Linked DNA regions of Homo sapiens. The protein of the gene in region 1 purifies or fractionates together with the protein of each later gene. This does not show direct contact. Each region holds a gene or a part of one and is shown in the gene's direction. Other genes may lie near its edges. The genes, in order: TRABD, ATP2B2, FCN1 and DNAJC11.

Region 1 (7,883 bases):
AGGCCTCAGAGGTCAAAGCAACAAAGCAGAAAATAAAAGGCACAGTTCGGCCGGGCGCGGTGGCTCACACCTGTAATCCCAGCACTTTGGGAGGCCAAGGTGGGCAGATCATGAAGTCAGGAGTTTGAGACCAGCCTGGCCAACATGGTGACACCGTCTCTACTAAAAATACAAAAATTAGCTGGGCGTGGTGGCGCGCACCTGTAATCCCAGCTACTCAGGAGGCTGAGGCAGGAGAATCGCTGGAACCCAGAAGGCGGAGGTTGCAGTGAGCCGAGATCACACCACTCTACTCCAGCAGCATGGGCGACAGCGAGACTCCGTCTCAAAAAAAAAAAAAAGAAAGTAGCAGTTCTTCACGCTCACCTAAGTCAGGACACCTCCCCAGCCTGCATGCCCATGTGCCCAGCATTCCCACGTCCAGGAGAGGGACCCGGTGTCACAGATCCCGGCCCAGGCCAGCCTGGTTGTGCAGGGAGGGCTGAGCCCTGGGCCTTGACAGCATCACCTTGGTGCTGCACCCACAGACCAGCTCAGTGGTGAGGGTGGGCAGGACATGGCAGCTGAGGAGACCCGAGGGATGGCGGCCTCCAGAGGTAGCGTTTGCCATGGGCGTCCTTGCTGCTCGCCAGCTGGGGCTGGGGACCCTCCTCACCCTCACACATGCACCCCGCCCACCTGCACCTGTCCTCCCTGCCCCAGCAGCCACCCGGCATCCCGCATGGCTCGGCTCAGGTAGGGAGACGTCCAGTAGTCCTTGGGGGCAGCCGGTCTGCGTGGTGCTGAGTCCCGCAGGCCCTGCCTCCCAGCTTGTGAGAGGAGCTGTCGCTGCCCAGAAAACGTCTAGGCCGAGGTGGGGCTTGAGCTGAGCCGGGGGACACAGGAGGCCTCAGGTGGAGCCACCTGGAGACTTCAATGTGACCAGGGCCATGGGCAGCAGCCACACTGCCCATCCCCCGCCTGTGCGCCTCAGCCTGGCAGGAGGTATGAAACCAACTCCTGTCTGGAAAGAGGTTCATGCCTCAAGTGAGCACCCTGCCCTGTGCTGGAGCTGGCCCTCCCTCTGCGCGGCCCGTGCTGGGGAGCTGGTGTCCGTCCTACAGTGAGACGCTGGCTCCCACCTCTCCCAGGTAACATCACCACCTTATCCCCAGACCTGTTCCTCTGGCTGTGTCCTTGCCAGCTGTGCCACGTTCCTAGAGGCAGGCGGGCAGAGGCCTGAAAGGGTGGCGCTCACCCTTGGCACTGGGTCAGGGCTGAACCGGCCCCAACCGCCTTCCCCCATAGGGCTCCCTCCCTCCCCTTGCCCCAACGCCTGCTTCTGTGGGATCTGTCACTCTGCTCCGAATGGGACTTGGCCCTTCCTCAAGGTCCACCCCTTGAGGACAAAGCCAGCCGGGGACCAAGACGGTCCCTCCCAGCACAAATGGCTTCACACAGTTTGTTTCTGTTCCTGAGAGCCCCCACCCTCCCTAGGACTCCTCCTCACTCCCCCCAGGGCACCTCCAGAAACCCTCCTCTGGCTGCTCCAGGAACAGGGCATCCACATGGCCAGCCCCCCGGCGTCAGGGCCTCAAAAGCTCTGGCACCCCAGGTGCACGTCCTCCACCTCCACCTGACCCTCTTCCCAAGGCAACCCCGCCTGCCCCCCACGGCAGAAGGGACAGAGCCTGCCCAGAGAAAAGCAGGCTTGGGAGCAGAACTTTAGAAGACAAGCCCAGCCTGAGATGTGGGTGGTGGCCCAGGGCCTGCGGCTGAGGTCCTGCCTCAGTTTCCCCAGCACGCTCCCTGAGGACTCAATCTCCCCCTTTTCTGCTTCTCGCCCCTCACAGCCTAGTGCAGCCCTGCAGGGGACCCCAGCCGGATCGGAGGGCAGTTCTGCTTCTCCACTGTCTGCTGCCCACCGGGGGCTGGGATCTCGGACACTCTCCCCTCCCCAACTGGCCACCTTGCCCAGGTGAGTCAGAGGGTCGTTCTGCAGCCCGGGGGCCAGCGTTGGTTTGAAATAGTGCCCCCTCCTGCCCCTCCCCCTCCCTGAGCATAAGCAGGCCTGGCAGGTGGATAGAACCGTCCCTCTCATGGAGAAGGAGGGGCTCCAGGAGGACCTTGCACCCATCCCAGATGGCCAAGACTGAGAACCCAGGCCTCCAGCCCCCAGGCCAGGGATCTTCCCTCCACACCAGCCCAGCACTGAGAAATGGGTGAGGTGGAGCCGGGGCGACTGCCACCCGCTGCCCTCCTGTGAGGATGTGGCCGAGATGGTCGGAAAGGCAGAATGACCACAAAGGCAGCGAACAATGAGAATCAATGGAGAGGATGTGAACCAGAGGCCCTAGGGCCCAAAGTGAGTGTCCTTCACCAAGGAGGACAGAGGCCTCTCTAAGGCCAGGCCTGGCCATTTGGGGACCAGGAAGCTGTAGGAGGGGGCGGGGCCTCTTGTGTAAGAATGCTCAGTGGGCAGCCAGCCCAGCCTGCTGCCGTGTGGACAGGCATTTTCACCCATCCGCCCCACCCCGGGAGGACCACCTGCAGACTCAGGACCAGGGACCTGAGGGGACCCCTGCAGGCCACCCGAGCCGGGGCAGCTCCTCAGAACCTGGGGCTGGGGCCGGGGCCTCCCTTCCTGGAGCCTGGAAGGAAGCAGGCTCCCCAGCACGGAGTCCTGGTGGACGGCCTCAGGCAGACCCAGACCAAGCCTGGGCGCTGCGTTGGACTCCCCCAACCCCAGGCCTGCTGGGTCAGCCTTCCAGGCTCGCTGAAGGTTCCTGCGTGGGGCAGCCCTCACTGAGGTCCTCCCCGTGGCTCCAGAGAGGAGCTAGTCCTAGGGCACTCGAGTAGAGAGGTGCGCCCTCCTCCCTCTTCTAAATGGTTCCCCAGCTGGCCCCACCTGGCCCCTTTCCCCAACTAACTCATCAGTGCCTGGCAGGAAGACACAGCAGCCCTCCCCCGGTGACTGGAGTCCTGGCCCCAGGGCAGGCCCCGCTCCAAGAACCTGATCCTTTGGCTGGGGCAGGGCCGTAGAGGTGGGCGCAGAGCTTCGGGGAGCTGGCTGTGGGGTCCGCGCATGCAGCCCGCAGGCAAACCATTGCCAGGCCCACGCCTGCACTAAGCCCAGCGCCAGCGCCAGGTCAGCCAAGAACCCGGGGTCGTGGAGGAGGAAGGAAGTCGTGGGCCCGGGATGCGCGGCCGGACCATTGCAGGAGAGCGGGGCAGGCGGACGGCGCAGCAGCTTGCGGGCAGCGAGTCGTCTGCATGCGGCGGCGAAGCGCCCGGGCCCCCGTCCGCGCCGGTGCCCGCAGCGCGCAGCAACTTGGCCGCCGGGTCCCGGCCGCCCCGGTAGAGGCTGGGTACAGCGAGGGGGCCGGGCGCCCGGGCAGGACGGGCGCGGCGGGTGGGGCCTGGCCGTCTCCCCCTGCCCTCGGGGCCGAACACGCACAGCGAGAGTCTAGCGTCGGCGTGGCTGCGGCCAGCCGGGTCCCCCTGGAGGCCTCCGGACGATCGGAAGTGACTGAGCGTCCGGGTCCGTGAGGCCGGGGGTCGGCCCGCCCTAAGACTCCCACCTGGTCCCGGTTCTCCGTCCGCTAGGCTGGCCGCGGGGCCCCTGGGGCCCGACCTTCCCGGGGTGCCCCAACCTGCGGCAAGGCCGAGGTCCCGCTGAGGCATGAGTCCCGGGTCGGGGACCGCTCTGGGCCGACCCCCGGAGGACGGACTAGGCCGATCCCCAGAGGGAAGGGGGCCAGGCCGAGGCCATGGCAGCGCGTTCCCTGATCCCGTGTTCTCGGCTCCTCGCGTCCCACTATCGGCTGTCCCTTTCGTGCGGGACTGACGGCTCACAGAACAGTTACATTTCAATATCATTCGACTGAAAACCATCCTGTGGACGCCGTGCGAGCATTGTCCCCATTTCACAGCTTGGGAGCTGCGACCAGAGAACGTGGGCGCGCCTCGCAAGGCCGTGACCGCGGCGGGACTCGAACCCTCCCTCCTGAGTGCGCGCCGATGTTCCTTAGGACCCGGGAGCGCCGGGGGGGGGGGGGGGGGCGGGGGCCCCGCGCGCTACCCCCTGGGAAGTGTAGTCCGAAGTTGCGGGCCGGGGCCAAGCAGGAGGCGCGTGGGACTACACTTCCCGGCATGCCACGCGGCCGCCGGCGCCCTCGGCCCGTCCGCCCCGCCCCGCCCCGCGGCCCCAGCCCGCCCCGTCCGTTGAGGGCCCGCGCCGCATGGAGGCCGGCTGAGGAGCGCCGCTGCCTCGCCTCGGTACGCCGCGCGGCGCGGACGGCGCGTGCGTGAGGACGGGGCCCAGCACCGAGCGGGGGGCGGGCCCGGGTCAGGGCCGCGGGGTGACTGTGGGGGGCGGGGGGAGCGAGCCCGAGTCGGGGGGTGGGGGCCGGGGGCGGGGGGGGTCAGGCCCGGGTCAGGTTTTGGGGCCGGGGTAGCAGGTCGTGGGGGTCAGGCCCGGATCAGGTTCAGGTTTTGGGGCCGGGGGAGCAGGTCGTGGGGGTCAGGCCAGGGTCAGATTCAGGGTTTGGGGCTGGTAGACCAGGGTCGTTGGGGGCCGGGCCCGGGTCAGGTTTGGGGGCCGGGGTGGCAGGTCGTTGGGGGGGCCAGGCCCGGGTCAGGTTTTGGAGCCGGGGGAGCAGGTCGTGGGGGTCAGGCCCGGGTCAGGTTTGGGGCGGGAGCAGGCCCCGCGCGTCCCCTGCCACCGCTGCCGGGAGCGGCGCTGCCGAGGAGCGGAGCCCCCCAGGGCTGGGGCGGGGAGGGTCAGCGGCGGCCTCGCGGGAAGGCGCGGGTCGGACCTCGAGTCCCAGGGTCCTCGCGGGTCGGGAGGGCCCCAGCCACCCCCGCCTGCCGCCTGCGGTGGAGCCGGCCGAGGTGAGAGTGGAGGAAGGCGGCCCAGGCCTGCGGGTCTCTGGGGGTGCTGGGGGAGGCCGAGCGGGAGGCCCCGGACCCCCGTTGTCCCCTCCGGCCCCGCTGAAACCTGGGGCTTCGCTCTTCTGTAGGTGCCTTTGCCCTTCAATTGGAGCAGAGCGGGGTTCCCATATGGGCGAAGTGGACGCCAGATCGTCCCCCGCTGTGCGCAGCCCAAACTTAAAAGGTCTTTTTAACTGAGCTATCATGAAGCTGCCGTGTGTCTTTGTCAAAACTCTTACAAGAAAGATGGAGTGGGAGCTGTCTGGGCACTAGCGTCCCAGAAACAACCAGGAACTTGTGGAGGTGCTAAGCTCCCTGCGGGGACTCCCGCAGCCTCGGTAGCCTCCAGATGGAAGCCTCCTAGCTTTCAGGTCCCTGAAGAGGCCGTGCAGGCCGCCAGGCTCACTGCGCTGTGTGTCTCTGCTCCCCGCTTGCTGCCGCCGCCCTTGCAGTGTGACTGGTGGGGATGCTGGCCAGCCTCGCCGGAGGCCCTGATGCTGTGGGGTCCGAGGAGGGGGCCTGGCAGGGTGGGTGGGTGGCAGGAGCCTGTGGGGCCCCCTGCATGGTGGTCAGTGTGGGGGCTCTGCATTGACTGTGACCAGGTCCTGGGAGGTTGGGGGCTGCCAGGTGTGCTGGCAAGGAGGCCTCGGGCTCTGGCTCAGGTGTGTTTCCCGTCTCCCAGCTCTGCCACACCTGCGTGAAGCGGTCCCGCCAAAGCCGGGAGGGGTTTCCTGTGGCCAAAGGTGCCAGGCATCAGAAACAGGAAGCAGGGGAGGTCAAAGCTCTGGGCCACACCCTGGTCCCTCCAAGTTTGTCATTTCTGCAACCCCCAGGTCTGACCAGTTTGGAACCTGGGCTTTCTGAGCCGGTCTAGTGGGTTGGTTGAGAGATGGGGGTTTTTCTGGTAACTGCATTTGGTGCTAGCCAGTTTTTGGTCTGCACTAGGAAGCTAGGCTGCAGTCTGGGAGGCAGTTTCTAGTGGGGTGAAGGGGATAAGATGGGTGTCTTAGCTCTAGCTGCTGTAACAAAGCATCACAGACCAGGAAACTTTAAAAAACAGCAGGCTGGGCTGGGTGTGGTGGTTCACGCCTGTAATCCCAGCACTTTGGGAGGCCGAGGCGGGCAGATCACGAGGTCAGGAGATGGAGACCTTCCTGGCTAACACGGTGAAACCCCGTCTCTACTAAAAAATACAAAAAATTAGCTGGGTGTAGTGGCAGGCGCCTGTAGTCCCAGCTACTCGGGAGGCTGAGGCAGGAGAATGGCGTGAACCCGGGAGGCAGAGCTTGCAGTGAGCCGAGATCATGCCACTGCACTCCAGCGTGGGCAACAGAGTGTGACTCTGTCTCAAAAACAAAAATGAGGTCTTGGCCTGGCGCAGTGGCTCACACCTGTAACCCCAGCACTTTGGGAGGCCGAGGCAGGTGGATCACAAGGTCAGGAGTTCAACACCAGCCTGGCCAAGATGGTGAAACCCCATCTCTACTAAAAATACAAAAATTAGCTGGGGGTGGTGGCGCACGCCTGTAATCCCAGCTACTCGGGAGGCTGAGGCAGGAGAATCGCTTGGACCTCAGGGTGGGGGAGGTTGCAGTGAGCCAAGATCACGCCACCGCACTCCAGCCTGGGCGACAGAGTGACACTCCGTCTCAAATAAAAAAAAAATGAGGTCTCGCTAAGTTGCCCAGACTGGTCTTAAACTCCAGACCTCAGACAATTCTCCTACCTCAGCCTCTCCTGAGTAGCTGGGGCTGTGAGCGAGTAGGCTCCTCCCACCATGCCTCACTGGTGCTGGGAAAAAACTTAACAGAAATTTATTTTCTCAGAGTTCTAGGGGCCGGACATCCCAGATCAAAGGTGCTGGTCCCTGGTTGCCATGCAGCCTCCTGGCTTGTAGACGGGCCCCCGCGGCGTCCTTACCCGGGGGAGCAAGAGCTGCGTGGCGTCTCTTCCAGGAGTACTAACCCCGTCATGGGGGCTATGCACTCATGACCTCATCCGAACCTGATCACCTCCTGGAGGCCCTGCCTTCTAATACCTTCATAGTGGGAGTTAGGGCTCTAACCTGTGGGTTTTGGGGGACACAGTTCAGTCTGTAGCAGTGGGACCTGAGCAGGCAGGTGGGATGCGCTGTCTGAGGCTCCCACTGGATGTCAGGTCCTGGGACAGAAGCCCTGCGGGACATTTCGGATGCAGACAGCCGTCTCTGACGCCAAAGGACTGTAGATGCCGCTCTGATTTTGTGTCCTAGGGCCGCACACCTCAGGCAGAGCCCTAACGGATGGGCTTTTGCGCACAACAGATGTCCTCCTGGGGCTGTTGGGAATTCTCAGAGGCTTCGTCTGCACAGAGGATCATGGTTTCCAAAGCCAGATATCCCTTTTTACAGATGAGGGACAGTGCTTGGAGAACAAGTGTCTTCAGAGGCAGTGTCTAGGGTCTCCTGAAATCGGGCTGCTAAGTCTTTTCTTGCCCTGTGGGTCTCCACCCCGTTCTCTGCCTTCGGGACAGACTGTGCTGCGGCAGAGAAGCTCGAGGCCGAGGCTGACCGCTAAAGCAGCATCTGAATGTGGCTTGTGCTTGCAGCCCAGAGAGGGCCTCCTGTGTGGGGCAGGTGGGATGCTGGCCCTGGAGGCAGGTTCCCGCCTTAAACGGCGGCTCCTGCCCAGAGCATCCTGCCCAGGGTAGCACTGGGGTCTGAGATCTGAGGACCCTGTCTGCCGGCTACCCATGCTCAGGAGGCATGTCCCACAAATCGTGTTCAGCACCCACCCCAGTCCTGCTCGGTGGACGTCCGTGCGGGGCAGGGAGAGTGAAGCACAGCTGGTCTGATACAAGCGTCTGGCTTCCTGCCAGGCTGCACCGCTTCCCAGCGGGTTGGCCTTGCAGGTAACAAGGCCAGAAGCCACTGCGAGGTTCCCTGGGGCAGTGCCAGCACTGGGGATTTGGGAAGGAGAGATGTCTGTCCCCCC
Region 2 (7,896 bases), on another chromosome or scaffold:
TGGCCTTGGGCAAATCCCACTCTGGGACTCAGTTTCCTCATTTGTAAAATGGCTATGGGAGCAGGGCTCCACTGGAGATCAGCCCTAGAACATCTTGGATTCCTCTTTCAAAGGTGCTGCCCAAGGACATTAATGGAAGCAGATCTGGCCTGGGGAGAGAAACCCAGAACCCCAGAACCACAAGGGAGCAGAAGGCGCCCAGCCCATCCTTATTCTTATTCATTCACTCATTCTCTCCATAACTGTTTACTGAGGTCCTGCCAGGTGCCAGCCCTGCTCAGGACAGGCCTGGTCCTGCCCACGTGGAATTCATGGGCCAGGCTGCACGCAGCAGGCATTGAATAAGTGGTCCCTGCATAGAGCAAAAGGCTGCACTGCTGGCATGGGGTGCTCTGGACCCAACACTGCCTCTAACTTGGACTAGGGAGGCTTTAGGTCACAGGCCATGGAAGGTGGGATGGGCTCCAGGGTTGGTAGGGCCTGTGCTTGAGGCAAGGCAGGGAACTGCTCTGCAAAGGGCTAGAGGCAGAAGATCCCCAGATGCCTTCAAGGATCTGGGCCAGGACCTCGGGGTGGGAGAGGGAAGCTACAGGAGACTGGAGCAGGTGGGAGGGCAGCAGATCCTGCAGGGCCGCCAATGCCCACCACGAGCACCCCGTCATGGCCTGCACCGTGTCACCAGGCACAGGAACATGGGAGGGTTTAGAGGGTAGAAGCATCATTTTAGAAAACTTACCCTGCAGTGCAGAGCACGGCCTGGCAGTGGAGGGACCTGTAGGATTGTCCTGCTTAAGAGTTGTCACCTGCCCACAGTGGTGACACCTCAAGTGGAGCTGCCAGGTGCGGGTCTGAGAAAGTTTGGGTAGTGGAGGGGTCTGGGCTGGGTGGTGGTTTGCATGTCATGGAGGGATGAGGAGCAGGAGGGTCTGGGATCCCATCAGTCTATACCTGTTGGAGAAGAGCATTGGACATCGAGCGAGGAGGGAGAGCAGGCCTGAGACAGAGTCCTGGGTGGCACATGTGGGTGGGGAGAGAGGAGCTGCAGAAGCCAAGAGCTGCCCGAGTGATGGTGCAGGCTGAGAACCTACAGAGGAGGCCAAGGGGAGGAGGCTAGAGGGGCAGGAGGATGGTCAGTGGGGAGTGGTGCCGGGAAGACAAGGAAGGAGGCCTGTGGAGGAGGAAGGTGTGGTCCATGGTGGAAATAGTTGCTGAGAGGTCTGCGGGGACAGAACAGAAATGTGACCATAGGAAGCAGCCACAGGGAGGCCCCTGGTGACTGCACACAGTCAGGCCACCCCAGGACTGGAGGCAGGGAGGCGTCTAGGGAGAGGTTTCCTCCCAGCTTTCCGCACAGCTTGAGCTACGCAACGGTCCGCACCACCTGGGAGCCACAGGGCAGAAATTTGACCCGTCCCTGCCTTGGAGGAGCCCCCAGGCTGACTGAGGGAACTATGGAAACTCAGGCCTAATGTCCCAAGGGGACAAGCTTGGGGAGGCTGAGTCCAGGACGGTGGAACTGAGGGGTCACCGACAGCTGGGTGGGAGCAGCCCAGAACGATTCCCAGAACACACGGCACTGCAGCTGGGCCTGAAAGAGGGTAGAGCTGCAAGGGAGCAGGTTGGGGGCACAGTGCCCCAGGTTATGGAACTCAGCGCCTCATTCCACAGGCTGCTGCCGTCTGCTAGGCACAGAGCAGAGAGATGCGCAAGGATGGAGCAGCACATAGAGTTACATGGATCTGATTAAGGGCAGGCAGGGATCCTCAGAGGGTCAGAAAGGCTTCCTGGGAAAAGCAGCCTCTGAGCCAAAAATACAGTACAGGTGGGTGACAGGAGTACCTCCAGCCAAGGGAACAGCCTGCCCAGACACAGGGCCAGTGAGAGCTAGCTCTGTGGGACCGTAAGCACAGATTGGGGGTGGCCAGGGGATGAGAGAAGAGAAGAGGTCAGGATGTGAGTGAGGCCTGGTCACAGAGGACTTCATAAGTGGAGCTAAGAACATGGATGTTATCCTGAGACCAAGGGGGGAAGCAGGAAAACGACATTCCGGGGATGGCTGGGGGACGGAACTGGTTCAGACATGGGTGTTAGAGAGATCCTGAGGTTGCTGTGGGGAAGCAAGTTGGAGGGGGAGTCCAGAGTCAGTGAGAGGAAACAAAGTGATGCTGGTGGCAGAGGGTGGAGACAGAGAAAAGGAAGGGTTTCAGTGGGATTTTGGAGCCAGAATTGGCAGGCCTTGGTGATACATTCAATGTGCAGAATGAGAGACCCATGGATGCTGATACCCAAATTCCTGTCGTGCCCATGGACATCCCTGCTCGCAAGCCCCATGAATGAGGAGTCCCACAAACTCCACAGGTCCCCACCGATGACATCCTTCACCCACCCTTTTCCACTGGCCCCAGCTCAGTGACTGGGGCCACATGTCATTTGTTCATTCTGTTATTCGTTGAATGTTTTATTGAAGATGAATGTCTGGAGGGAGGTCAGGGCCAGAATGGTGGGGCAGAGGTCACTGGCAAATGACAAAGCCAAGGCCTCCTCAGCAAGCCTGGACTCCCCAGGGAGAAAGTGCTGGCTAGTGGTGTCGGGAGGAACAGATGGTGAGGTCCTGCTGAAACCCTGGGAGCCCTGCTGAGGCAGAGGGGGCCCTGAGCACAGTTAGAGGATACAGTGTTTCTGGTTAGGATGGATGCCAATGTGGCCACAGGTTGCAGACAGCAAAGAGGGGGCTGGAGAGGTGAGCAGGGCCCGGGCCACAGGGGGCCCCAAGTCGGCACCAGCCCAGTAAGGAGCCCACTGTAACCTGCTGGCAGCTATAGGCCAGCCTGGAGCTGGGAAGAGCCTGGATGGAGGGGGCGGCTGGACAGGGACCAGAGAGGAAGCCATGCCCAGCCAGGCCCCTCCCGAGGACCAGGGCTGGCCCAGGCTGCCTCCCACCTGAGTGGCCCAGGGCCTGAGCACACTCCTGCCCCAACAGGCATCATCGACAGCACACACACTGAGCAGCGGCAGGTGGTGGCCGTGACGGGGGACGGGACCAACGACGGGCCTGCACTCAAGAAGGCCGACGTGGGCTTCGCCATGGTAGGAACGGCCCACAGAGGGCCTGGGGTGGTGGGGGCTGGGGAGATTGGACTACACAACCTTGGGCTGGCTACTCAGGAGCCCCAGTTCACACTTGGCCCACCCGCCATCTGCCGTGGGTGCCCACCCTTCTCGAGACTCAGCCTGACCCCGAGGTCTTCCTGGAAAGGCATAGGATGCTTCTTGCTCTGGGGGAGCTGTGTGAAGGGGGGCACTTGCAGGCTGAGGAGGAAGATAACAGAGGGGGAGAGGGGGCCAGGGTGAGGCTTCCTGAGGGTGAAGGGAGCTGGGTCTGTGAGGAGCGTGAAGAGTGGGGTGTCCCTGTGTGGTCTGGCTGTGCTGGGCCCACTGGGAGTTGTGTAGGACTGAGGAAGTGGAGGGAGTGAGGATGGTGATGCTAGAAGTGGTCACCTCCCCCGGCCACCCCACCCAGCCTCCTGTCCCTGTCCCCACAGGGCATCGCAGGCACTGACGTGGCCAAGGAGGCCTCAGACATCATCCTGACAGACGACAATTTCAGCAGCATCGTCAAGGCAGTGATGTGGGGCCGCAACGTCTATGACAGCATCTCCAAATTCTTGCAGTTCCAGCTCACCGTCAACGTGGTGGCCGTGATTGTGGCCTTCACAGGCGCCTGCATCACGCAGGTGGGTCCGCAGGAGACCACACCAAAGCCTGGGGGAGGGCGGAGACCCCCCACAGAGGCTCGGGGGCCTTAGGGTACTCCAGGTTGTCCCTGTCAGAACAGCCGGGGATGAGGCACCCATCGATGGAGCACCTGCTGGGGGCCAGGAACTGCATCACAGAGCTCAGGTGCAGGCACTGGCCCCAGGGGAGTCGAGGACATGAGGCTCAGAGAGGTGGCGTGACTTGTTCAAGGTCACCCAGCAAATGGGAGCTGTCAGGCTCACAGCCTGGCCCTCACTGCAGGAGGCAGGAGAGGGAATCCTCAAGAGAAGGCAGGGCCCTTGGCCACCACGAGGGCAGAGGGAGGCAGGGAGGGGCAGGCCAGGGCCCAAGGGGGATCAGGCATCCAGGTGAGGACAAAGAGCCAGTGGGGGCCCTGGGGCCCTGGCTCTGGACTGGAGTGTGGAGTGCCTTAGGAGGTGCTAGGTGGGGATAACTGGAGGGAGTCGGGGATCTTGCTCACTGGGAAGGTCACAGAGGAGTCTGGCCAGATACCACGACTGGGTCTGGAGCAGCCCTATGCACTGAGCCTGGCAGGCAGGCCCCAGATGTCTGCAGACTGACTGCTTCTTCATGCAGCTCCATGAGGTGGGAACTGTGATGATCCTCATTTTACAGAGGCAGAAACTGAGGCTCAGAGGATGGACTGGCCAGGGACCTGCCATTGTTCTTGCAGTCTCCTGATACTCCCCACAGGGGCTGACCAGCCTGGCCAGGGAGGCAAGAATGGGTCTCCCTTAGCCCCAGGGGATCCCCAAGGCCCAACACTCCCAGTAGCCACCTGGGCAGACAAGCCCATGCCCACAGGAGCCCCCAGAGGCCCAGAGTGCAGCACTGCCCCAAGAGCTGTGTGGCGCTGGAACACTGCTCCCCTCTGTTGCTTCCTGCGCTGGGGGAATATAGGTGGCAGCTCCGGCTACCCCAGCCCTGAGAATCGGAGCCTTGGGAGGGTGGCTGGGGGCTTCCTTTTGCTCAGAAGGGCCCTCTTTCCTGGCCTGTGGATGAGACACTCCCTCTAGTGGCAGCTTGAGGAACACTCCTGCGGCCCCAGCAACTTGGAAACCAGAAGGTCTTGATGCCAGATAGGGAAACTGAGATTCTGAGACCACTATCAGTTTGCCTGAGGTCTTTGATTGAGTTGGTGGCGAGGCCATGCAGCATTGATAAGAAGACGGGCACACTTGACCCTGAGGTATATGGAATTAGAGAAAGCCCGGGGTGGGGAGGACGGGGGCAAGGGGAGCGAGGCTGAGGCAAGGAGGAGGTGAGAGAGAAAGCCAGGAGCAGGGGCTGTGATGAAACCTGGGAGGTGATGAGTGGAAGGGATGCAGGTATATGGGGCTTTGGGAGAGAACAGAGGTGGGAAGAGCATCGGGTTTGGGCTGTTGAGCTTACAGGGTCTGGGGGCTTCCTGGAGGAGGTGTTCCACAGGCCACTAGACGGATGTAACTAAAGCCACAGGACGAGGAGGAGAATGGGGCTGAGGCAGGAACACAGATTTAAAAGGAAGGGAGGACGACGACCAGGAGAGTGGGGTCAGGATTACAAGTGGGAGTGCAGGGGCGAGGTCAGTGACATCTGGCCGAGAAGAGGTCCTGCAACTCGTGGCACAGAAGGTGCTGGTGACGTGGGCGGAGGGCATTCTGGGAACGTGGAGGGGCCAAAGTCTGGCTGCTGTGGACAAGATACGTGGGGGTGTGAGGAAGGATGGGGACAGAAGAACCAGCTCCTCTCAGCCAAAGAGACAGGTCTGAAAGGGTCCCTCCCAGAACCTGGACAGTGGTGACCTAAAAGTGGTGAGGTCCTTGACAGTTTTAGTTGCTTTTGCTATTCCTCATTTGCCATATTTCCTACCTTGAAATGTATTAATTTTTGAGTCATAGATACGCACAATAATTTTTTAAGGTAAGGCGGGATAAGAGGGGAGGAGACATTGGGGGGGTGGGGGACGGGCACTGTTTGTAGGATAGAAAGCCCGAGGGGGAGGAGGCAGTGGGGGGAGGAGGTAGGAGCCCATGCCGGAGGCGGTGGGAATGGTCTTGGCCTCAGCCAGGAGAGACCCCCTCCTCGGGGGCTGGAGGGGAGAGGGGAAGATGGTGAGATGCAGCTGAATTTACCAGAAGGCAGGGAGCTGGTGGCCATTGGGCCTGGGGGGACTCACTTATCTCCTGGCAGGGAAGATGTGGCTGAGGTGGGCAGGTCTGCACTGTTCTCCAGAGAAGGCATCAGAGAACAACTCCATGCCTGCTGGGGAGCCAAGGGGCAGGTCGGACTCCAGCCTCCAGCAGGAGCCTGCGGACACTACACCATGAGCCCGCCCAGCACTTCACAGCAGCAGGTGGGCGCACAGGTGACAGCCCTCTCCTGCCCGTCCCCAGGACTCCCCTCTGAAGGCCGTGCAGATGCTCTGGGTGAACCTCATCATGGACACGTTTGCCTCGCTGGCACTGGCCACTGAGCCGCCCACGGAGACCCTGCTGCTGAGGAAGCCGTACGGCCGCAACAAGCCGCTCATCTCCAGGACCATGATGAAGAACATCCTGGGCCATGCTGTCTACCAGCTTGCCCTCATCTTCACCCTGCTCTTTGTTGGTGAGCGCCTCGCCCACCCACGCCTCTCCCAGGCGGGGTCATCACCTTCTGGGTGCACCATGGCTCTCACCCAGCATTCTCGAGTCACAACCCCCTCCTGTTTTGCTAATGGGGAAATTGAGGCCCAGGGAGGTCAAGTAAGTTGCCCAAGGTCACACCAGCAAGTCTTGAACAGGGCCTGGCCCTGTCCCAGCTCTGGCTAACCCTAAAGCCATCAGTGGCTTTCTCCACTGGTGACAGCTCCTGGCAACAAGTACAGACCGTGCAAGGCCCTGACCGGGTGCTGAAGCACTGCATGGCAGCCCCAGAGGCACCTGAGGCTGGGAGGGGAGTGACTCACCCCTTCTCTGACCCATTCCAGCACCTTATCCTGGCCCCGTGGAAGGGACCCTCAGCAAGGCTTCCTGGGGCAGGGCATACACGCTCACACCACCACCGACTCTCACAATGCTTCCACTTGGGCTGCCTGGTTGGGTCTTCCACTCAGTGAGGCAAGCACATTTGCCTCCACCCCACATTACAAACGAGGGCACCAAGGCTCAGAGAGGTGAGGTGACTTGCCCAAGGGCACACAGCCAGTCTGAGGAAGAGTCTGGGCACAGAACCAGGTCTGGCTGGGGCCAAGACTGGCCTGGTTTCCACAGATGCTTCGGAGGCAATCCCAACAAAGCCTATCCCCAGGTCACAGATGGGGAAACAGAGGCCCAGAGAGGGGAAGGGTCTGGCCCGCAGTCCCACATGGAATCAGGGCCAGTTCTCTCCTTACAGGAGCCTCCCGGAGCTGGCCTTTCACTTGTCCTCAAAGCCCAGAGTGTGATGGAGGTGGGCATGGATCCATTCCTCAAAGGCAGTTAGTTGCCTTTTATAAATTTTGAAAGTAGTGTGTTGTCAGGACACATTTTACTGTTGTAAAACTTATCATGAAAAAGCTTAGAGGAAGCCACTTATATGCAGAACTAGAAGAGACTCAGAGGAGGTGGAGGGGTTGGAGAGGAGAGGAGAGCGGGGGTCCTGGTCGGCTTGCTGGCTTGACCACTTGAGCAGCACCTACCCTGGGTAGTCTTGGGACATCTCACACCCAGAAAACTCCACAAGCCTCCTGGCACCACTTTACTCAGCTGTGCAAAAGGACACAGGACTTGGCCAGGTGCAGTGGCTCATGCCTGTAATCCCAGCACTTTGGGAGGCCGAGGCGGGTGGATCACTTGAGGTCAGGAATTCGAGACCAGCATGGCCAACATGGAGAAACCCCATCTCTACTAAAAATACAAAAATTAGCCGGGCGTGATGGTGCGCACCTGTAATCCCAGCTACTTGAGAGGCTAAAGCAGGAGAATCACTTGAACCCAGGAGGCGGGTGTTGCAGTGAGCTGAGATCACGCCACTGTCCTCCAGCCTGGGCAACAACGAGACTCCATCTCAAAAACAAAACAAAACAAAACAAAAAGGATACAGGACTGCATCAGACACCCTATCAGCAGCGTCTACACAGCAGTGCCCTGCCATGTGACAGCTCAGGTGTTAGAATGA
Region 3 (7,896 bases), on another chromosome or scaffold:
ACCCTAAAGCAAGAACCAGCCCCCATACACTCTCCCCAGCCACTGGGGTCAGCGAGCGGGCTGGGGGCTGCCTCTTGGCTGGCATCGGGGACGGGAGGGTCACCTTTCTGGCCAGAACCACGTGGAGCGCTGTGTGACACCCCAGGAGCTCAGGCGCACGGTGGAACCGGATCCTCCCTGGCAGCAGCGGCTGCACGTGGCGCCCACCCTCTCCGTGTGGGGACGTGGTAGGATGAGGCTCTCTGAGGACGCATTCTTTGTTCCAGAACCTGGTCCCTTGCTAGGCAGTAGAGCTCTGTGTGGGTGACTTGGGTCCAGGCTTATGGTCAACAGAGTGTGAAACCCAGGTTGCTCCCAAGGCACAAACAGGAGCAAGGTGCACCTTGCCTTGAGCCCAAGGTGGGGTGCAGGCCCCTCCCTCAATCCCTCACCTCCATCTGCAGTCACCCCCAGGCTAAATCCATGGCTAGCAATTCTGAGAGCTCCTGGAACCAGAAGGGGTTCAAGGCAGAGTGGGGGAGGGTCAGGACTTAACCACTTGGGGCAAAGATTTCCAGGGAGAATTGTTTAGGTTGCATTTTTCTCAGTGATATGTCTTTGGAATTTTCAGGAGAACGCGGTCTCCCTGGAGCCCCTGGAAAGGCAGGACCAGTGGGGCCCAAAGGTAACCAGGGGACAGACAGCGAGGAGGCCTTGAGCAGGGACCTTGGAGCTGTCTGTAATGAAATGAGGGAGGGAGAGACAGAGACAGAGACACAGACACAGACACAGAGAGACACGGCAACAGAGAGAGAAAGACAGTGGCAGGCGGACAGGGACCCTGGGATATTCCAGGCCTCGGGGCCCCTCCCCACCATTGAGACCTGGGCGTTGTGATGCCTTAGTGAGCCTGCAGGGCTGGGGAGATGCAGTGTCCAGGCCGGGAGCCCACTCTGGACCAGCCTTTCCGTGGCCCACACATCTGGGGTCAAAAGCTCATTATCCTGCCTCTTCCTCCAGGAGACCGAGGAGAGAAGGGGATGCGTGGAGAGAAAGGTGAGCCACCCGTGGGCCCAGGCAGTTGTCTCTGCAGGCTTTGTCCAGGGGAGGGGTCTCAGAGGCCTCAGTCCGCCTGCCCACCGCCCACGTCCCTGTCAATCCAGGCTGTGGGCAGGGAGGGGTGGAAGGAGTCCAGCGGGCTTTGTTGTCAGAATCCACGAGGGCTCAAACCCTGGTGTCTACAGCAGTCACTCCCAGTGGCCAGCAGGACCACATCAGTGCATAGATGGTGACACTTCAATATTTCAATTTCTGTCTTACTTATGCTCATTTATGCAAAAATTGTAAAAGTTTAAAAAAGCCAAATGTGCAAGACTCTAATACACTGTACCACGCTCCACCCACAAACACAAATGAAAACCGGAGCCGGGGGCTGAGGGTCCGCCGATACCTGAGTCCCAAGAAACAGAGGCCAGGGCGGAGGCAGGGCAGGCTTGGAGTGACCCTGCCAGGCTTGAAGAGTTATTCCGCTGTTATCAGTGGCGAAGGCCCCACTAGGGGTCCAGTTCGTCCAGCAGGACCCGCAGCGCCTGCCACAGCCCACCAAGCTCAAGCTGCACAGCAGGGGCCTATGGACAACCATGTGGCTGGTGCCTCTGGGGAAGTCGAGTCTGGCCATCCTTCCCTAGGCCTGTGCCACGTGTCCTGGAGACATCAGAGGAGCTGCCTTTGCCCATTCTCTATTCTGTGCTCAGGGAGCCACTGGGGCTGACCAGGACAAAGGCTCTGATTTCAAGCTTATGACAAGTGTCTCCTCTCCCCACACAGGAGACGCTGGGCAGTCTCAGTCGTGTGCGACAGGTGACTGATCACACCCTGACCTCGGTACCCAAGCCTTGCCCCCACCCCTGGGGCCAGCTGCACACGTTCACGCTACGGAATCTAAGGACAGAACCCTGTCTGCACCTATCATCCCCCCCTCAATCACTCGAGTAATGGGCAGCTATCACCTGAATCCCTTCCATGACAACCTGGGCTCTACTATTATCTACCCTAGAAGGCCGGGTGCCCAGGAGGCAAAGGTGGGGCAGACACTGGGAGGTGGGAGGGTCGGCAGACTGGGTGTGGGCATCACAGCTGCGTGGCCCTGGGGGCCGTGTCCCTGTCCAGGCCTCGGAGTCCTGCTCGGTCCGCACAGAAGCCTGTGGCCCTCCTCCTCCCTCCTGGGCCTCCCTCCCACTGCCCCTGTCCTGCCCAGGGCCCCCGTCCTGCAGCCATTCCCCGGGTTCCCTTCCCAGGCCCACGCAACTGCAAGGACCTGCTAGACCGGGGGTATTTCCTGAGCGGCTGGCACACCATCTACCTGCCCGACTGCCGGCCCCTGACTGTGCTCTGTGACATGGACACGGACGGAGGGGGCTGGACCGTGAGTGTGGGGCTGGGCAGAGGCGGTCAGCCTGGGAGTCCCGGAGGCCAGGCTGCACACCTGGTTGTAGAACACACTCTGGAATTCTCTATTCCCCTGGATGGGGACAATCATAGATGATGGGGGAAGTGACCCGTGGGTAAAAGTCCAGGCCATCGGGGAGGCTGGGAGGGGACCGGTGCTCTCCTGCTGTGTGGCTTGGGGCTTGTTGCCTCTCTTCTCTGAGACCGCATTTCCTCTTTCATCCTGTGGAGTCTGTGAGGAGACCAGATGGGCGTGCGTGTGGCACCGGCCTGTGATGCTCTGCCAACTACAAATGCTGCTCCTCTGGAGGGCGGGTCCCCGGTGCTGTGGGACCTCGGCCTGCCCCGCCTAACTCTGTATCCTGGCTTCTTCACAGGTTTTCCAGCGGAGGATGGATGGCTCTGTGGACTTCTATCGGGACTGGGCCGCATACAAGCAGGGCTTCGGCAGTCAGCTGGGGGAGTTCTGGCTGGGGAATGACAACATCCACGCCCTGACTGCCCAGGGTAGGGCCACTGCCGTGGCTCAGGGGTTGGGGGGCCCTGAGGTGCTCCTGCCCCTTAGGCCTGGGCCATCTGCAACATAAGCACCTCTTGGCCCACAGGGGATTGGGCCCTGAGCACACTCAGGTGGCACTGGGACCTCTAAGGGCTGCGTCCCCTGCCGCAGGCTCTGGCAACATCGGGAAGGGAAACGGTTAGAGCCCTGGGCTGAAGGCCTCTTCAGGTCTTGGTCCTACTGGCATCTTAGATCCTGAGAGTGGGAAGCAGGAGAGAGACCACTGGGGCTTGGGGTAGCCTTCCCCCATCTCCAGCTGTTGATCTGCCTCTGAAGCTGGCATCTTAGTCCCATGGAGAGCCCACGCTCGCCTCCTCCAGCCCACGCCTCAGCAGGCCCCCCACAGCCGCACTCACCTGAGTGAGAGGGCCTCCCCCCAACCCTCTGGGGCAGGGGATGAGTTTCACAGCTGGTCCTGAGGCAGTCTGTATAATTGCTGGTCCATTATCCCTGCCCACTGCCCTGTGGCATGATTGAAGGAATCCACTCAGGTGCCTCAAATTCCTGCAAAAGAAACTACAATTAGAGCTTCGCCCACTGCTGTGTTAGTGGCTCACCAACCCTTAGAAGGAGAAGGTACACTTTCAAAATGAAAGAATGCTCCCTTCCACCCAGTGAACTCCAGTGGGGCATGTTCAGTTCTCTGAAATAACGGGAAAGGTGTTTAGAAACAGAAAGCCATCCCTGAGGGCCTGATAGCAACAAGGGATTTTCTGACATTTCCGGTTGATTTTTTTCCTGGATGCCACGTTCAGACATCCCTTAAGAATATATCCATCCCCAGCCGGGCACCGTGGCTCACACCTGTAATCCCAGCATTTTGGGAGGCTGAGGCTGGTGGATCATGAGGTGAAGAGATCGAGACCATCCTGACCAACATGGTGAAACCCCATCTCTACTAAAAATACAAAAAAAAAAAAAAGTAGCTGTGTGTGGTGGCACACACCTGTAATCCCAGCTACTGGGGAGGCTGAGGCAGGAGAATTGCTTGAACCCAGGAGGCGGAGGTTGCAGTGAGCTGAGATGGTGCCATTGCACTCCAGCCTGGGCAACAAGAGCGGAACTCTGTCTCAAAAAAAAAAAAAAAAAAATTACCCATCCCCAGCCCTCATGCCTGGTGACAGAAAGATCTTAAAGGCTGGGGCCTTAAAATCTTTTTCCAACAGGAAGCAGCGAGCTCCGTGTAGACCTGGTGGACTTTGAGGGCAACCACCAGTTTGCTAAGTACAAATCATTCAAGGTGGCTGACGAGGCAGAGAAGTACAAGCTGGTACTGGGAGCCTTTGTCGGGGGCAGTGCGGGTGAGTGTCTGCTTGGGGCTGGTGGCCTGAGTGGGGCTTGGAAAGCAGAGAGAACCTGGCTCTGTCTCCCCTGGTGACCTTGGGCCCTCCTCTCTCTGAATCCCATTTCTCCATCTATGAAGCAGACACTAGCATTTGTGTCTCTGTACAGCGTGGGGCTCACAGGACATAGCGGCTGGTATTCCTAAGGCTATGTCTGCCGCACAGTGAGCTGCCTGGGCAGGGCTGAGACGACCCACCAGCATCACTGCTGAAACCTGGAAGACGTCGTCCTTTTCTCATGGGTGCCTTGGAGCTGTTTCCCAAACTGTGCTCCATGGAACACCAGCCTTGTGGGACATTCTTTACCAAAAGGAGTCTCTGGCTACACGATCTGGGGAGGCATTTCCTACAGGGCGTCTGCTTAGGGAATTCCCAGTGCACATCGTTCGTGAAAGGCACTGAGAATTGCTGCAGCTGGAAGTCTGTGTAACTAACTGCTCCATGGAGCAAGGCAGTCCCAGGGGAGCCTTGGAAATGACAGCCTTGGAGTCTGTGCAGTCCTTTCACAGGCACGATCTCACGCATGACCTCCAAGGAAGGCAGCAGGGCAGGGAAGGTCACCCCCATTTTGCAGGTGGTAAAACCGAGGCTCAGGGGGTGACATTTCTCAGCTATAGGAGCCAGGGATGAGCTTCCGGCTCAGGGCTTGAGATAGAGGAGAAGCCCCCAGGTGAGGGCTGTCCTGAACCTACCAAGGGCCACCAGGGGACGTGGGGAGAGACCGGAAGGAGCGGCGCAGGCTGGAGGAGGGAGGTCATTCCAGGAGAGAGCAGGAGGCCTGACAGTTTGCGGGAGCCCTGGAGGAAACAGGTGGTTGCTGGAGCAGGGGCCTCAGGTTGTGGAGAGAGATTTCCAGACCAGGTTGCCAGAGGTTGCCTCCTGCTTCCCCTTCCTCCAAGGCCTGGGTGGGTCATTTGTGCACCTGTAGCTCGGCTCATGCGTCGCTAAAGTGAGGTTGGCTCTGCTCAGAGGCAGGATGTGGTGAGGGTCTCACAGTGGCAGGGCTTTTTCCAGCATCTGCAAACCCCACATTTTCTGTGAGCAGGTAATTCTCTAACGGGCCACAACAACAACTTCTTCTCCACCAAAGACCAAGACAATGATGTGAGTTCTTCGAATTGTGCTGAGAAGTTCCAAGGAGCCTGGTGGTACGCCGACTGTCATGCTTCAAACCTCAATGGTCTCTACCTCATGGGACCCCATGAGAGCTATGCCAATGGTATCAACTGGAGTGCGGCGAAGGGGTACAAATATAGCTACAAGGTGTCAGAGATGAAGGTGCGGCCCGCCTAGACGGGCCAGGACCCCTCCACATGCACCTGCTAGTGGGGAGGCCACACCCACAAGCGCTGCGTCGTGGAAGTCACCCCATTTCCCCAGCCAGACACACTCCCATGACGCCCACAGCTGCCCCTTTGCCCCCAGCTCAGTCAAGCCGCCACATGCCCACAACCTCACCAGAGGGAGAATTATGTTTCTAAATATGTTTACTTTGGGACAGAAAAGTTTTACCAGTTTCAATGTGTGTTTCTTGAACACCAGTGGTTTTGATCACTTTCCTGTGTCTGTTGCACGGCAGGTCTTTCCCTGGAATTTGGTAAGTCGGGAAGAGTCAGGACCCTTATTTAGCAGATGGCACTACCGATGTTCAGGGAGGTTGAGTGACTTTTGCGAGGATTTTCCACCTCCAGTAATTGACACAGGGCGATCCTCACCTCCACCCCCAAGCCTCCCCCATCCCCCCATGCCTCACTCACAACACTTCACACTTCTTGAAAAAGGTCACTTTGGGGTCCAGAAAACACTTACTAAAAAGGGGGAAAGTTTAGTAGGAACTTTTCTGCTTCCCACCACGGCAGAGTTCATGCTTTGGGCTGGCTGGCTGCTGGGAAGAGATAAACACTTAGCACTCACTAAGTGAGCGCCTGGTCAGCCACCTGCACAGAGAAGATTCCGAAGAGGCCTTCCTCCCACACACAGACCTCAGCTAGAGGGGACCGCGGACCTCAGTGGGAAAAGCTGCACAAGGCTTCTAGGAGATGATGGAGAAGGGGCTTCTCCAGCTCCCAGGCCAGGGGAGATTTCTCAACCACGACCTAAGAAGCATCAAAGGGAATGTGGCAAGTGTGACTCCATTCAAATCAAGAGCTCCCACTTACCGAAGGACACTAAGGGAACCAAAGGAAGGCCAGAGGGGCAGAATCAACGTGCGGCACACAAATCTTTAGTTTTCTACTATTGCCGCAACCAGTCACCACAAATGGAGTGGCTTGAAACAACAAGAACTCGCCACCTCCTGGCTCAGTAGATCTGGAGTCCCTGGGCCTTACTGGGCCAGCAGGCAGGACTCAGCAGTGGTGGCTCCTTCCAGGGTTCTAGGGGAGAACCTGCTTCCTTGCCTTTTCCAGCCCCAGGGGTCACTGGCATTCATTGGCCCGGACTCCTTCCCCCAACCCCAAAGCCAGCAGCACCACATCTCTCTGACCCTTCATCCGTTGTCCCCTCTCCCCCCAAGCCCCATGGGACAGGGTCTCCACTCCTGAGACTCATGGGATTAGACTAGGCCTACCTGGATGATCTGGGATCCTCTCCCATGTCCAGGTCTCTATCCCTAACCACATCAGCAAAGTCTCTTTTGCCATGGAAGGTATTTGCAGGCTCTGACTTTGTGTGTATTAGGGCAGGACATTTTTGGCGGGGCAGTGGTGGGGGCAGGGAATTATTCTGCCTACCATGCCTTATACAAAAATAAATAAATCACAGGCTTATACCTGAAAGAATTCCTGCAAATAATAAAAGAATTAGAGCAGCTCAGTTAAATAAAAAAAGGTATGAGATGTGAACAGACACTTCACAGAAGATGACATGCAGGGGAGCAAGGTATTTATCAAAAAGTGCTCCACTTTTCACTTACCAGAGAAATGCAAATCAGCACCCAAAGGAGTCACTGCGGCACCCTCATCTGAGCCTCAGAAGTTAGAAAGATGGATAGCACCAGTGTCAAAGGTGACTGTGGGAGGGAGATTTGCATACACTGCTAGTAACAATGCGAATTGATGGAACCAACCTGGAAAATGGCTTGGCATCAACTGTTGGAGAAGAAGACACACAGTCCTCTAACCTGCCAGTCCCACATCAGGGCCTGGATATGGCCGTCATGTGTACCAGGGAGCATGGCCAGGAATCTTTACAGCCAAATACTCACCATAGCACCAAACTGGAATCAGCCGACATACCCATCAGGAAGAGAATGGATGTTAAAAAATGCAAGGATAGCCATTGGGTAGAACGCCATACAGCCATGACAATTACACAGTGACACCTACACACAAGGAGCATGAGTCTCACAAACATGGCAGCAAAAGGAGCCTGTTCAAGAGGGTATGTGCTATGGATTCCATTGTAGATAAAGTTTTTCAAAAGCAAAAGTAGCCAATGGTATTTTGGATGCATATTTAGGTGGTAAATGTATACAGGAAAAATAAGAAAGTGATTGTATTTGAGGGTGGGACCACATGGTGACTGGGAAGGGACAGGGACAAGCCTCTGGGGTTCTGGCAATGCTCT
Region 4 (7,896 bases), on another chromosome or scaffold:
CATTCATGTCTCACACACCTCAGCGGAGGTGGCTGGCATCGCTGTCTCTCTAGGCAACCTCTCCCCGGGCCAGCTCAGGCTTCCTTGCCAACAGCAGTCTCTGGGTAGTTGGACTTAATACGTATTAGCTAGTGTCCCCCAGATAGTGCATTTTAGAGACCTGGGCCAAGCTGCAAGGCTTCTCGTGAGCTGGTCTTGAAGTCAGCACCATCACATCCACGCATTCTGTTGGACAAAAGCAAGTCTGAGAGTTGCTTTTGTGAACCTGAGAGGTTCAGGATCAAGGAGAGGGCTCTGTACAAGGGTGTGAGTACCCGCAGGCATGGTTCCTTAGGAGGCCTTTGATCTGACTTCCACAGTGTGTCACACTATTTTTTGAAGAGTGTATTTCCTGTGTCTTTTTCTTTTATAACATTGCCTACCATCTTTATGAAAGTTGCATTTATATTTAGCAAGTTATATTTTACTTTGAGATAGGGTCTCATACTATCACCCAGGCTAGAGTGCAGTGATACAGTCACAGCTCACTGCAGCCTTGGCCTCCTGGGCTCAAGGAATCCTCCCACCTCCCAGTGGAATCCTCCCAGTCTCCTAGGTGACTGGGACCACAGGCGGATACCACCACTCCCAGCTAAACTTTTTTTTTTTTTTTTTGGTTTTAGTTTTTTTTGTGGAGACAGAGTCTCAACATGTTGCCTAGGCTGGTCTCGAACTCCTGGGCTCAAGCAATCCCTCCACCTCAGCCTCCCAAAGTACTGGGATTGCAGGAGTGAGCCACAGCACTCAGCTGAAATTTTTGACACATTTAATTGATTCATCTCTGTATATCATATTTTTAATTTAGAAAATATTCTCTCAATTCTAAATTTCTTCATATTAGAACATAAAAATATCTTGGCCCAAGTATTTTGACAGGTATTGTCTTTTTAACTTTATTCACAACAGTTTTCTTTGACACATTTTTCTAAATCATCTTTATTTATGATCTTTTGAATGTTTTATCAAATTTAGATGCTATAAAACTGTAGACCTTTTCAATTCCATTTCATTCTTGAACAGAATATAAATTTACCTAATTAAACATGACAGCTCCACCAAGATTCCTACACAAAATAAAGATACTCCAAAATGCCGTTATGGAATTTCAAAATTGTATCTCATTATATCTCATAAACTCTTATTTATTTTGTATGGTTTTTTTCCCCCTAAAAAGATCAGCTTCAGATTATTTTTCATTACAAGCTTTATTTTCAGTGATTGTAATTTTTTTTTTTTTTTTTTTTTTAGACGGAGTCTTGTTCTGTTGCCCAGGCTGGAGTGCAGTGGCACAATCTTGGCTCACTGCAACCTCTGCCTCACAAGTTGAAGCAATTCTCCTGCCTCAGCCTCCTGAGGAGCTGGGATTATAGGTGCGCACCACCACGCCCGGCTAATTTTTGTATTTTTAGTAGAGATGGGGTTTCACCATGTTGGTCATGTTGGTCTCAAACTCCTGACTTCGTGAGCCGCCTGCCTCGGCCTCCCAAAGTGCTGGGATTACAGGCATGAGCCACCACACCCGGCCTGTTCTTGTTTTTGAGACAGAGTCTTGCTCTGTCACCCATGCTGGAGTGCAGTGGCGCAATCTTGGCTCACTGAAACCTCCACCTTTCAGGTTCAAGCAGTTCTCCTGCCTCAGCCTCTAGAGTAGCTGGGACGTGTACCTGGCTAATTTTTGTATTTTTAGTAGCAACAGGGTTTCTACCACGTTGGCCAGGCTGGTCTCGAACTCCTGACCTCAGGTGATCCCACTCCCTCAGCCTCCCAAAGTGTTGGGATTACGGGTATTAGCCACCACACCTGGCCACAGATTGTTCATATACTGCCATGCAGTTTTGTTGATTATTCAGAATCATCATCATGACAGAGATGTGTTCATGCTGTTACTCTGTGAATATAAAAAATTTGTAAATTTTGGCAACTACAACTTCATTTTCCATGGGTAGAATACCACAGCTTGTTTTGACACAATTATGCATTATGCGTATCACTACAACTAATTCTAAGGATGTTTCTAGTCCATGGGTTTCTTGATTTAATAAGAAAATTTTTTACCATAACACTATACTGCCTCCAAGTTGGTATTTGAATATCACCGCAAAAACAAACACGTTTACCTTTAATGTGGAACTTTTTGATTGAGTTTATAGTAGCATTCATAATGTCAGGTGTTTCACCCTCAACAGAAATCAAGTAATTATTAGGGTTAATGCATTTTCAGATTGAAGCATCTGATAGAAAGCTAGCACCAGCTGGGCGCGGTGGCTCACACCTGTAATCTCAGCACTTTGGGAGGCCGAGGCGAGTGGATCATGAGGTCAAGAGATCGAGACCATCCTGGTCAACATGGTGAAACCCTGTCTCTACTAAAAATACAAAAATTAACTGGGCATGGTGGCGTGCGCCTGTAGTCCCAGCTACTCGGGAGACTAAGGCAGGAGAATCGCTTGAACCCAGGAGGCGGAGGTTGCAGTGAGCCAAGATCGTGCCACTGCACTGCACTGGACTAATGGCTAATGTTGCCTGGTGACAGAGCGAGACTCCATCTCAAAAAAAAAAAAAAAAGAAAAGCTAGCAAAAAAACATTGTTTCAATGGGCTGCAAAAAGTTTAGTTAAAAAAATGTGTGTGGCCATGGTTTTATATACTGGATTAAGATAATGTCCGTTTTTAAAGTTGTGACTATCAAAGAATAATAAACATTGATTTTCTGAGTAACAAGCATTTTTATCAGCAAAATTTTAGCTTAGAATTCCTTGAGCAAATACAGTGTTCTGTTTCTCAAACTTAATTCTCATTAATTTGAGAAGGTGGATTAATTTTAAAGTCTCCCATTTGTTCATAATTTGTGCTGCTTTATCTTTGAAGGTATTTTTATTTAAAGAGTTTTAGGGTAGTTTTGTGGTATAAGGTTGTTTACCAAAAAATGTTTAATCCATGTAGCTCATTTCTAGGTGGTTTTGTGCATTCTTGGGTCCTGTTTGGTCTCTGAAAATCAAACTGTCTAGCTCTTACTCCTTTGACTAACACTTTTGTCTTTGGCGTGTCATTGCTCTGCAGACATGCGGACCGGCTCTCCTGGTCAAATGATGTTTTCTAGCTCTGGACGTCTGTGGTGCTCTGCAGTTTGGTTCGGACTGTGACATTCATGCTTTGTGGGCTTCCTGGTGGAGTGTCCTACCTAAACCCAGTGAACCCTGAAGTCAAATGACTTGTTCAATTAAAGCGAGCTGGCTGTTGAAGTGTAGCATTGTCTTTCATTCCACAAATACCACCCGTTCTGCTGACGGCTTGTTTTTCTGCCCCAGGGAACGATCAGCGTTGGAGTAGATGCCACCGACCTTTTTGATCGCTATGATGAGGAGTATGAAGATGTGTCCGGCAGTAGCTTTCCGCAGATTGAAATTAATAAAATGCACATATCCCAGTCCATTGAGGTAAAGCACACAACCACCTCTCCGAGTACAGCAAGGGCTCGAGTTAATGAGGCACAGCACACCAAGCAGCTGGAATGAGAGTCTGCCCAGGGTTTTTCTCATCTTTATTTATGAAAGGATGCAATTAGCCACTTAAAAAAGAAAGCGCTTCATTCCCAGCCGTGTGTTACCGCTGTGCTGGCATGTGAGCCAGCAGGAGTGTGGGCTGGGGCACTTGGCTCCCAAGGTCTTGGGCCTTTCCAGCAGAGGGTGTTAATGGTCTGGGAGAAGTAGAGGCCCAAGGTCATGGGGTTCTGGGAGAGAAAGCAGACCTCCATGGATCATTCTAACAACCAGTTTTAGTTTTAAGGCAAATTCTGCTAGGTGCCGCAAGGCTATAGCAGCTCTCATCCTGAGCCCTGGGCACGCGAAAATGTCACCATTCTGCCCACTATTTGGATGTGACGAGGTCAGGTCATTCTCCTGAGCGTTTATAGTAGGTCTTTGTCTCCTCAGCTCATTAATTTATTCTCCATTGCATCAGCCAACAACGTGGAGTCCTAACTTGGGGAAATTTGCCCCCTCTTGGAGCTCCCTGAGTCAGTTGATACAGAATACAGCCATGGGAAGGTCTTCAGTCCCCCTGGAACCCTGATGGCAAACCACAGAGGGAAGGCACACAGTGAAGTCACTGTGCTATCTGATACCATTGGGACATGCAGCCCCATGTTTCCCCTGGTGTTGTGAAATGTGCCCATTAAAGCTTTTGCAAAGCATATTACCCTCGTGGTCACATGCAGACCAAATAACAAAGCGGAAGAAAAGTGAAGCTGTTGCGGCAGTTCTGCATCCATGTGTGCTTCTGAACAGAGGAATCGTCTGCACCTTTGGCCTTGGGCTCACAGTGCGTTCTTTAGGCTGCTGCCATTGGCACTTCCTGTTGTTTTGATTCATTCATTACCAGCAAATACCATTTTTAGGCACCCTTGACAGCGACAGACACAGCCATCCTCTCTGGAAGCCTCTCAACCCAGAATGGAAATGGAGGAGGTTCCATTAACTTTGCGCTCAGACGAGTAACTTCGGCAAAGGGATGGGGAGAGGTAAGAATGTCTATTGGCTGAGTTGTGTTGTCTGTGCAAAGCCTTATTTCTGAACATTTACACTCTCAAAGCTCACCCTCAAACTCACCCTGGGGGCCCCGTTGTTGTGTAAGAACGGTACCAAGTGTCAAGCTTCCATAAGTTGACTGGTCCTAAAAGAAAAATAGGTCTCATGAGCCTGGCCAACATGGTGAAACCCCGTCTCTACTAAAAATACAAAACTTAGCTGGGCATGGTGGCACCTGCCTGTAATCCCAGCTACTTGGGAGGCTGAGGCAGGAGAATCACGAGAATCACATGAACCCAGGAGGCAGAGGTTGCAGCGAGTCAAGATCGCGCCGTTGCACTCCAGTCTGGGGGACAAGAGCAAAATTCCGTCTCAAAAATAAATAAATAAATAGGTCTCATATCTGAGAAGTCCTGTCAGTCTTCCTCACAGTTTAAAATTGGCATAGAAAAACAAGGTTTCCTATGAGATGCCAACTTCTAGAAATCCAGCCTCTGAAACTCCGTGTGTTTGTTCCCTTTGAGCAAAAAGCCTGTGGGCTCTTTTTCCTGCACAATTCAGAAGGCAGGTGCTCTCTTCCGCGTGATGGTTCACTGATTGGTGGCCATTTAACAGCCAGTTCTGCCGAGCAAATTGAGCTGCATCAAATTAACATTGAAGAGTTGCTTGAAAGTCACCCAGACTAGTAAACACGGCAGCCAGGCTCAGCTGTGACTTCCAAGGCTGTGCGGGTGTGGAACCGCGGCTGGGCTTTAACATCAGGCTCCTGAGGACCGCCCCAGTGACCTGGGAGACATTTGGCGCAGGATGAAAATGAAAAGGAGTCGGCAGTGCATGCGGGGGTGGGGGGCACACCGGACCGCAGTCGGTGCTCTGCAGGTGGCGGGGGGCTGCGCCGGGAGGGGTAGGGGGAGCCAGCTGGTCTCCTGACCTCAGCCTGGGAGGCAAGGAACAGAGGGGAGCAGTTTTTTCTTTGGAGGGACACCAATGAAACATGTGCCTTTGAAGCCTGGGTCTCCTTTGGATCTGTGGCAGCAGACAGCTCCATTTGGCAAAGGTTAAGATGAGACATTAACAATCTTCCACCCCCTTCTTTTAGAGCCCTGGCAAGACCAGTGAATTGAATGAAGGAATTATACCTAGAGGTACATACCTGAGCCTGGGTTGCTGCTATGAGATAAAACACCATTAATGCCTTCTCTTTTTCCTTTTCAAACAGTTGGAATTTGGAGCTGGAGACCTACAGGGGCCTTTGTTCGGTCTCAAGCTGTTCCGTAATCTCACACCAAGATGGTAAATATGAGAGACAGCAGCTCCTCTTTGGTGGTCTTTGTTGGCTTAGGAGACTAGAACTGTGTGTTCTTTTTATCACAGTGGTTGGCACTATCTTGTCTGTCCTACAAGGTCACTGCGTACATCAAGGGCAGGTATAGCACTGGCGTGAAGCCCAGGCAGTGTGCAGGTGGGAAGAGGCAGGATTGAGGGGGCCGGACCCTTGTCCCAGCCCTGGCCAGGCTGCACCATCCAGGTCTCGCACCTCCCTTACCTATGCCACAAGGCCACGGAGAAAGAGTGCCTTCAGGGAGAGTTGGTCAGTGGACCGAAACACTTACAGACTTATGGATCGTTCCATTGTCCCAGAGAATGACAGACTGCCTCATCATCGGGTTGATTGACATATGCCAGAGATGTAGTCCCCAGCCAGCCTCTGCTTCCTGTCGTCTCTGCTGCTGCCATGTCACACTCCTAGAACTGTATATCCCTGTCCCTTCTAGAACGACAGCAGTGTCTTCATTTCCTATATGGTGGGTGCAGTGATGTCTGTGTGAGCTCAGATAAAAGAATTGGTGGAGGGTAAATAATACCTCTTTCTTCCAGAGGAAGATATAGCTGAAGGAGTCCTAGAATGGAGCACATGGAGTTTATTTTATTTATTTATTTATTTTGGAGACAGGGTCTTGCTCTGTCTTGCCCAGCCTGGAGTGCGGTGGTGTGATCTCGGCTCACTGCAGCCTCTGCCTCCTGGGTTCAAGCTATTCTCCTGTCTCAACCTTCCGAGTAGCTGGGACTACAGGCGTGTGCCACCACACCCAGCTATTTTTGTATTTTTAATAGAGATGGGGTTTCACCATGTTGGTCAGGCTGGTCTCGAACTCCTGACCTCAGGTGATCCACCTGCCTCGGCCTCCCAAAGTGGTGAGATTACAGGCGTGAGCCACCACGCCTGGCCTATTTTATTTTACTTTATTTTTGTTAGAGACGAGGTTTTGTTCTGTTGCCTAGGCTAGAGTGCAATAGTCCGATCATAGTCCACTGCAGCCTTGAACTCCTGGGGTCAAGCAGTCCTCCTCCCTCAGCCTCCCGAAAAACTAGGACTACAGGCGTGTGCCAACATGCCTGGCTCATTGTTTAGTTTTTTTTAGGGATAAGTTATCTCTATGTTGCCTAGGCTGGTCTCAAGCTCCTGGATTCAAGCAGTCCTCCCACCTTGGCCTCCCAAAGCACTGAGATTAGAAGCATGAGCCACTTCAGCAAGCCTGGAGTATATGTTTTTTGTTTTGAGACAGGTCTCACTTTGTCACCCCGGCTGGAGAATAGTGATGCAATCTTGGCTCACTGCACCCTCAACCTCCCAGGCTCAGGTGACCCTCCTGAGTAGCTGGGACTACAGGTGTGCACCACCATGCCTGACTAATTTTTGTAGAGTTGGGGTTTCTCCTTGTTGGCCAGGCTGGTCTCTTAACTCCTGACCTCAGGTGATCCTCCCACCTTGGCCTCCCAAAGTGCTGGCATTACAGGTGTGAGCCACTGTGCCCAGGCACAGTGGCATGAATAACTTTCTTATCAAACATGTATTGTAGGCTGTACAAACATGTACAAACATGTACAGGAGTTCGAGACCAGCCTGGCCAACATGGCGAAACCCCCTCTACTAAAAATATAAAAATTAACCAGGCATGGTGGCGCTTGCCTGTAGTCCCAGCTACTTGGGAGGCTGAGGTGGGAGGATCTCTTGAACCCAGGAGGCGGAGGTTGCAATGATCCAAGATCACACCACTGTACTCCAGCCTAAGCAGCAGAGCAAGACTGTCTCAAAAAAAAAAAAAAAGTTAGTTATTACACTTCCAATGAGACATGTATCTGTGTGCCTGCCACGCTCTGCAGGGGTTGACCTAATCCCTGCCCACTAGTCTGGTCGTTTGTCTGTGGGGCATGGGGCAGAGAACACAGGCAGGCTTGCAGGTCAGCCTGTTGTAGGGAGAGCAGGAGAAGTTGGGAGAGAGCCTGCGAAACAGGAGGACGTGGCCTGTGGGGCAGGCGGAGGCCGCTTA

What was found.
Region 2: the proteins of TRABD (region 1) and ATP2B2 purify together in Homo sapiens (affinity purification with mass spectrometry; 3 studies listed by BioGRID and IntAct, with this or other methods). This does not show direct contact.
Region 3: the proteins of TRABD (region 1) and FCN1 purify together in Homo sapiens (affinity purification with mass spectrometry; 2 studies listed by BioGRID and IntAct, with this or other methods). This does not show direct contact.
Region 4: the proteins of TRABD (region 1) and DNAJC11 purify together in Homo sapiens (affinity purification with mass spectrometry; 3 studies listed by BioGRID and IntAct, with this or other methods). This does not show direct contact.

The regions. Positions count from the first base shown.
Region 1 is NC_000022.11:50,181,720-50,189,602, forward strand, and holds the start of TRABD (traB domain-containing protein), read left to right. Parts: upstream 1-4,193; 5' UTR 4,194-4,257; exon of another isoform or gene 4,258-4,326; intron 4,327-7,883.
Region 2 is NC_000003.12:10,341,222-10,349,117, reverse strand, and holds part of ATP2B2 (plasma membrane calcium-transporting ATPase 2), read left to right. Parts: intron 1-2,980; coding exon 2,981-3,087; intron 3,088-3,542; coding exon 3,543-3,734; intron 3,735-6,152; coding exon 6,153-6,366; intron 6,367-7,896. UniProt on the Homo sapiens protein: ATP-driven Ca(2+) ion pump involved in the maintenance of basal intracellular Ca(2+) levels in specialized cells of cerebellar circuit and vestibular and cochlear systems.
Region 3 is NC_000009.12:134,907,524-134,915,419, reverse strand, and holds part of FCN1 (ficolin-1 precursor), read left to right. Parts: intron 1-610; coding exon 611-664; intron 665-999; coding exon 1,000-1,035; intron 1,036-1,806; coding exon 1,807-1,839; intron 1,840-2,276; coding exon 2,277-2,404; intron 2,405-2,804; coding exon 2,805-2,934; intron 2,935-4,152; coding exon 4,153-4,287; intron 4,288-5,374; coding exon 5,375-5,622; 3' UTR 5,623-7,896.
Region 4 is NC_000001.11:6,649,490-6,657,385, reverse strand, and holds part of DNAJC11 (dnaJ homolog subfamily C member 11), read left to right. Parts: intron 1-3,346; coding exon 3,347-3,475; intron 3,476-4,434; coding exon 4,435-4,557; intron 4,558-5,783; coding exon 5,784-5,857; intron 5,858-7,896.